Homo sapiens: one gene and its partner. The protein of the gene in region 2 purifies or fractionates together with the protein of the main gene of each other region. This does not show direct contact. Each region holds a gene or a part of one and is shown on either strand. Other genes may lie near its edges.

Region 1 (3,500 bases), on a different chromosome or scaffold from region 2:
ATGTGATACGTCTTCCAGCCTCCATTCGCAACTTCTTCCACCTCATCTCCTCCTGCACCCCTCTAGATCACTTCTTTTGTTGCTCCCACCTCCGGACTTCTGTATATGCAGCTCATTCTAAAGTATGATTCCCCATGGTTCCTTCTTTTACCATTTTCTATTTTTTTTTTTTTTTAGGGGGATAGGGTTTTGCTTTGTAACCCAGGCTAGAGTGGCACAGCTCACTTGCAGCCTTGATTACCTGGGCCCAAGTGATCCTCCTGCCTCAGCCTCCTGAGTAGCTGGCACCACAGGCTTGCATCACAACGTCCGGCTAATTTTTAAATTTTTGTAGAGAGCGGGTCTCCATAGGAGACCCTGTCACAAACAAGCTGGTCTCAAACTTCTGGCCTCAAGTGATCTCCTGCCTTAGCCTCCCAAAATGTTGGGATTACAGGCTGAGTCACTGTTCCTGATTCCTTTACTACTATTGAGTCTGATTCAGTAGAGCCTTCTGGTATAGATTTCCTAAACGTCTCTATTTAAAATCATAACCATCCCTCCAGTCCTTGGCCCCCCCCCATCTTTCTACTTGCTTTATTTTTTCCCTATATTATATGGTAAATATACTATCTAATTTTCAATTTTACTGCCTATCTCTCAACTAGACTGTAAGCTTCATGAATTCAAGGAGTATGGTCTCTTCGGTATGCTGGTTCACTGCCAGTGTTATGAACATGCTTGGCACATATTAAACACCTCAATAAATAAATATTTATTGAGTGAATTAATCAGAGCTGAGAGTGGACATTCTTTTGTACCCATAACAAAAACTGAACAGCATACTGAACCGATCAATCTGAACTGAATCAGGCTGGCCGTCAGGGCCTCCAAAGTACTGCTTCTGTCTGGTCAGCCTGCTGCTACAGCCTTGGCCAGCTAGGCCCTGCTGCTCATGGTGCCAGCCCAGAGAGGAGCCAGCCAGGAGATGGTGAGTGCTGTGGGGGTGGGGAGCCCCAAGGAGAAGGCACTGAGGAGGAAAAACAGGATTAGCAGCTCAAACTGCCAGAGACAGAAAGCAAGCTCAAATGAGTGACCTGAAACAGCAAGTGGTAGATTTAGAACAGAACCAAAAACTTTTGCTAGAAAATCAGTTTTTACAAGAGAAAATGCATGGACTCGTAGTTGAGAACCATGAGTGAAGACAGCACTTGGGGATGGATGCTCTGGTTACTGAAGAGGAGGCGAAAGCCAAGATAATTCCATCTATTTGATGCTTGACATCCCTAACTAGGCAGATGAGGGTAGAAGTTAGTTGTGGTGGGGTTGGAAGTAAACATCAACTACCTTCCCAGTATGATATCCTGTTGGGCATTCTGGACAACTTAGACCCACTAGTGTTCTTCAAATGTCCTTCCCCAGGGTCTGCCAGCCTGGAGCAGCTCCCAGAGGTCTACTCAGAAGGACCCAATTCCTAACCAGCCTCCCTTTCTCTGTCAGTGGGGACATTATCAGCCAAGCTTGAAGCTATTAATGAACTAATTAATTTTGACTACATATATGCCAAGCCCGTAGTCTGAGACAGAGAGCCAAGCTAATGCGGTAGTGAAAATCAAGGAAGCACCTCTCAGCCTTTTAGAGAATGATCACCCAGAATTCGTGGTCTCAGTGAAGGAAGACTTTGTGGAAGATGACTTCATTCCAGACCTGGGTATCTCCAATCTACTTCCATCCAGCCACTGCCCGAAGCCATCTTCCTGTCTACTGGATGTTTACAGTGACTGTGGGTATGAGGGCTCCCCTTTCCCCTTCAGCGACATGGCCTCTCCACTTGGTGCAAACCATTCTAAGGAGGAGACTGGCCAATGAACTCTTTCACCAGCTGGTTAGTGTCTAAGGAGTGATCCAATACTGTTGCTCTTTTCCTTGACTATTACACTGCCTGGAGGATAGCAGAGAAGCCTGCCTGCGCTTCATTCAAAACGTCACAGAGTGTACAGTCCTAGAGAATTCCCCTATTTACCTGTTTAAACGTCATAGATAACCCCAAGTATTGTCTTTTGGCATCCAGCAGTCCAAGGTATTCGATATGTTACAATTCAGAACTATAGGTTTTGAGGTTGTACTTTTTCTAAAGAGTGGTAGTTTGCCCTAAATATTTATTATGTGAGGGTGATTAGACAAGTGTCTTAGAGTAGACATGGAATTCATGAATGGCTCTTTATCATTTCTCCTCCCGCTTTTTGGCATCCCAGGCTTGTCTCTAGTTTTAGGTCCTTTAGTTTTCTTCTGCAAGTGGAGAGAACACATACCTGAGGGGGCTCTTTTCCCCTCATGTACAGTTCAAGTAAAGATCAAGAATTTTTTGTAAAATTATAGAAATTTACTACGTAAATGCTTGATGGAATTTTTCCTGCTAGTATAGCTTTTGAAAGGTGCTTTCTCCATTTATTTAAAACTACCTATGTAATTAAGTATAATACAAAAAAATTAAATAAACAATTAGAAGAGATGGACTTGCATATCAATATAGATGATTCTCTAAAATCGCTGCCTACCAAGGAAAGTCATTTTTCCTAATGTTCTGACTGAAGGCTACATTAAATGTGGCATGGAGGAAGAGTCTTGGGAAAAGTCGAGAACTGTAAGTGTTCTCAATAGGCAAAGACTTTGTAAAGAAATCCCAGAGTAATGTTGGCATTTGGCTGAGGGGTGGTGATAAGACAAGAAGGCCAGGAAGCCTGTTATTTGAGCCCAGTGTGTCACATCTCCTCTCACATGTGGGGCCATCTTGTTCCTGAGTCTTACCTTCTTTAGTGATGGCATCTGCAGTCTCTTTGGCCTTGTCTTTAAGGTCCTTGACCACACTGTCCATCTGGGACTCGTGCTTCAGGAAGAAAGGACGGATGATGCGCTTGTAGAGCAGTTCAGCCCCATTAGAAGGGCTCGGGGCCATGCACCACAACAGGAAGCCACACTGCACAGAAAAAGAGCCAGCATGGGTAACAGGAGGGTGGAGGGGGCACATTCTGAGAATACACACTGTCTTTCACTACTCTGGGGATGGGAGATGCCTCTGTTATTTTCCCCAAAGGCATTACCAGTGTTTTCTGCAGGTTAAAGGTGGGCTTTCTTTAGATGGAAAAAACATGATGAGTAATGAGCTGGTAAGGAAAAGCTGAGACTAAAAAACAAAAGGTAAAACACACCAGGTCCAGGAGCTTAACTATCTTCCTAACTTGGACCACGTTTTAGTATATAGCTGTAAGAGGCTTTTATTAATCATAACTCTTAGAAATCAATTTAAGAAAATATAGTACTTATCTGCATGTATAAAGCCCTGTACAGATAAGCCTAATATCTAGGAGGCCTGTGCTTGGTAGGCTTATCTTGGTAAGTTTATCACATTTATTCATCCTATTATGGAAAAAATACCTTGTCCATTCCTGAATTCTTCCTTTGGTGGACCTCAGTTTTGGGTAGATCTTAGCCTTCAAGGAATCTTTACAGTTGTTCTTCAT
Region 2 (4,336 bases):
GCCTAAAATAAAATTTAAAAAAAGGAAATAAGATGCATTGATTCTCCCACTTTGTTGGCTTGATACAGACAAAACACATTGAAACAATTTAAACCTGAGATGGTTTGAATGCATGGGGAAATTGAAGTCACTTTAAAGAGATATGGTTTCAGATTAACTGAGCCTCTCACCTCCATTCCCAGAGGACAGTAAATGAAGAGAGGCTGGCAAACTACCAAGCCTGCTGAATGATTTTCCTTGGTTCTCCACAACTGAGTCATTGAGAAAGGCAGGTTTTGCTGCCCAGGGTGGTATTCTCCTGTCCATCCATTTACTTCTCCTTAATCATTAGCTTTTGATGGTTGCTAACCATGATAATAATAGCTAACATTTATCAGTCACTATGAATCAACCACTATACTCAAAATGTCACATATATTACCTCGTGACGATCTCTTGATACCATTTTATACAGAAGGTGTCTCAAATTCACACAGCTAGAAAGTGACAGAGCTTGGATTCAAATCCATATCTACCTGACCCCAGACTCTATGCTTGAAGACGCTGTCCTCTGATTATAAGCACAAATGTAAACTAGCATTTCATTGCTAACATTTTATGTCTTCCCTCCTATAGATGCTTATAGTAACAACAGTTCTTCTGGTACTGGAGAATAATAACAACTATAAATGTTGCCAGAGTGAAAACTGCAGCAAAAAATATGTGGTAAGAGCAACAGTTTTTTTGAGGATGGTTGAGTGGGCTCCAGCTTTCTTTCCTCTCACTCAGAAACACAAAAATATTGACAGTATTATACCCTCACTACTGTTGAGTACAGTACAGAGATCAAGAGTTTACTGCCAAGATCATCTTCCATTTTGCTTAGTCTTTCCTCCACTTTTGTTCTACTGATGCACTTTCAGAAAATCAGCATTTAAAGATACCTAAAATTAGGAAATAATACTTTTTTTTCCTAACTAAGTTTCCATTAGTCTATTTTTTCTTTACAAACTTTATTGAGGGCTAAATTACATATAATAAGTGGCATCCATTAAAATTATGCAATATCATGAGTTTTAACAGTTGACTACACTCATGAAACCACCATTGCAGTCAAGATAACAGAATATTTCTGCCAACCCCCAAAGATTAACCTTTGATTTACTTTTTGTCATTATAGATTAGTTTGTATTTTATATATGTGGAATCATACAATATTTGTCTTTTTTATCTGGGTTTTTTCATCCAGGATAATAATTTTTAGATTCATCCATATTGTTGGGTGTATGTGATGTGCATTTTCTAAGTTGGCACTTGAAAAATAATTAAAATAGTATCAGGGTGAATAATACAACCGCATTTTCTAAGCCAGTGCTCCTGCATTTCTACCATTCTCCTTCTCATCCTCTTCCTCCTCTTCATCGTTTATTCACACTTGCATAGCACTTTATAGTTCTTTCACATTTACTCAGTGAATTAAGTCATTATTGCTCCTATTTTATAGATGAAGCACTTGTGGCTCAAAGAGAACAAGTGATTATTAGCTAGGAGGAGTTTTATGATGATATCTGGTAGGCATTTTTTGCAGCAGTGCTTCTACCTGTTAGCTTCATATTGCAATCACCTGGGAGCTTGGAACAACACTAATGCCTAAATCCCATCCCCAGAGTCCCTGATTTAGTTAGTCTGAGGTACAACCTGGGCATGGATATGTTTTAAATCTCCCCAGGATATTTCAATGCGTAGTCAAGATTGTATGGCAAATTTTCTTTGACCAATGTCTTTTAAAAATTAAATTCGTTGCTTTATTTAGTACTGTGTCCCTTATGGAGAAGAATTGAAAATTTAAAATACACTCGTGTGTGTGTGTGTGTGTGTGTGTGTGTGTGTGTGTGTGTGACCAGTTGACTCAGTCATCCTCCAGTAGCTACTTGTAATATACTTATGGAAGAGATTTCAAAATTGCCTAGGGGAAATAATAAATTCAGGTATAGATTCAAGTTATGATACTCAGAGAATTTCTAGAAAACAAATATATGTGATATTAAGTGTAAAATAAAAATTCACATGTTCAATTTGCCTTAACTCACTATTAGCACTTCTAGCACAAATAGATGCTAGAAATAGTCTGAAAAGGGTCTTATAATCAGCATTAAATTAGATGACTAACATCTCATTGGGAACAGCAGGAGAAAGAAAGAGAGGATTCTCCGGGTTCCCTTTTTGGCCTTTTCAAGGTAAGTTCTAGAAGAGAAGTCCCAATTCAAATGCCCCCAGAAGCCACGTGTGTGACATAAATGAATTAAATGAGCCTGGTAGGCATCAGAGCACAATTTCCATCTAAGGAGGAGAAGGAGCTGCTACTGAAGTCCAGCCAGTTGTTGCCATGATCAAGTAGGGCAATAATTCTCAGTTTTCAGTAGAAAGTAAAAATATGGATTTTTATGTAAAACTTTTCAATTGTAAAATATTGGCAATTAATCTTCATTTAAACCAAACAAAGTACATATTGTGGGAAAAACTGAATCTGCATCAGTTTGTAACTTCCAAAATGTAATAAAAATTGATTCATTTCTTGGTTGTTATCTGCTATGGCCTGAATGTGTTCCTCCAAAATTCACATGGAAACCTAATTCTCACTGTGGCGATATTAAGAGGTGGGATGTTTTTGGAAGTGACTAAGTTATGATGGCTCTTCCCTCATGAATGAGAGTGGTGCCCTTATAAAAGGGGTTGAGGGGAGTACTCTTACCTCCCTTGCACCATGCGAGGACACATAGAAGGTGCCATTTATGAGGAATGAGCCCTCACCAGACACTGAATCTGCCAGTGATCTTGGACTTTCCAGCCTCCAGAAGTGTGAATAATAAAATTCTGTTATTAATTACTCAGTCTAAGGTATTTTTATTATAGCAGCAGGAACTAAGGCACTCTCCATTCCTGCATGGAGTCTGGTTTTCTGCCAAAATTCTTGGACAATTATTCCTGGAAAGCAAATATTGGCCAAATAAGGGCACTTGAAATAATAGCTAATATTTTATTATATTTTATTTTTGAAATTGCCCTGTCACATAGGTACCATTCCTGTCTACATCATCTACAGTTTACAGAAAAGAAAACTATGATTCAAATTCTTATTCCCACTTTATTTTGAGGCTTACCTTGATAGTGCAATGGTATCCACTCATTAGATTGTAGTGTGTGCGTGTGCATGTGTGTGTATGCTATGGCTGCCAGTTTCCCCCAATGAAGAAATTCTTCACTGATCTTCCCAGTGAATATTTTTTCCAGTTTTCCATAAAGAGGATATATTAATGTCATACTCAGTGAAATAATTTTAAACAAAGAAATGTTATTGAGATGATTTTTATTCCTAAAATCACAGGTTTGTTGGTCTTACTTTTTCTGGTCTCAGCTTTTGAATTTATTATCAATTGGTTACTGCATGTTACTATTCTGCTGCCTACTCTCACCCTGCAATCAACATTTCTAAAGCTAATTTTTCCCCCAAACCAAATAACCTTTCTTGGTATCCTTATTTCTGTCTCCTTTTTATCCAAGCCCCAGCTCTGGATTTTTTTTTTTTTTTCATCTCCAGCTACTCATTTCCTCCTTAATGTGTTTTCCTCCAATGTGTGTCTTTGTCACCTCAACTTGCATCTGTCTCCAAGCTGGATCCTTATCTTTGAGGTCTCTTACTTCCAGCTTGTGTGACCACTGCCAGAGCAATCTTCCAAAAGCACATTTTGGGCATATCACTTCCTGCTCAAAAACCAATTACAAGACTTGTTTAAAAAATAGTTTCTGGCCGGACACAGCGGCTCATGCCTGTAATCCCAGCACTTTGGGAGGCCAAGGCAGGTGGATCCCCTGAGGTCAGGAGTTTGAGAGCAGCCTGGCCAACATGGTGAAACCCCATATCTACTAAAAATACAAAAATGAGCTAGGCGTGGCGGCACGTGCCTGTAGTCCCAGCTACTCAGGAGGCTGAGGCAGGAGAATCGTTTGAACCCAGGAGGTGGAGGTTGCAGTGAGCCATGATCAGGCCCTGCACTCCCGCCTGGGTGACAGAGTGAGACTACAACTCAAAAACAACAACAAAACAACAACAACAACAAAACCCCAGCTTCTTCCAGGTCTATGGCAGGGTAAGCTCAAAATGAACCTGGAACATCTTGTGCCAGAAAGCAAGAAAATGTTCAAAGAATGACATGAGTATGTCAAAGGGCATAGGAGTTGACCTACAGGGATGTTCACATTGGCCGAATTTGGACCATCTGTGCATCTAAAAGAATAATCGCATTTATGGATTATAGCACAATGAATTAGAAGATCTGTGAGTCCAGAAAATATAGAC

Evidence for each region. Proteins that work in one complex are often made in the same cells at the same time.
Region 1: the proteins of TM4SF18 (region 2) and REEP5 purify together in Homo sapiens (affinity purification with mass spectrometry; 2 studies listed by BioGRID and IntAct, with this or other methods). This does not show direct contact.

What each region holds. Positions count from the first base shown.
Region 1 is NC_000005.10:112,884,228-112,887,727, forward strand, and holds part of REEP5 (receptor expression-enhancing protein 5), read right to left. Parts: intron 2,957-3,500; coding exon 2,788-2,956; intron 1-2,787. UniProt on the Homo sapiens protein: Plays an essential role in heart function and development by regulating the organization and function of the sarcoplasmic reticulum in cardiomyocytes.
Region 2 is NC_000003.12:149,326,699-149,331,034, reverse strand, and holds part of TM4SF18 (transmembrane 4 L6 family member 18), read left to right. Parts: intron 1-615; coding exon 616-705; intron 706-4,336.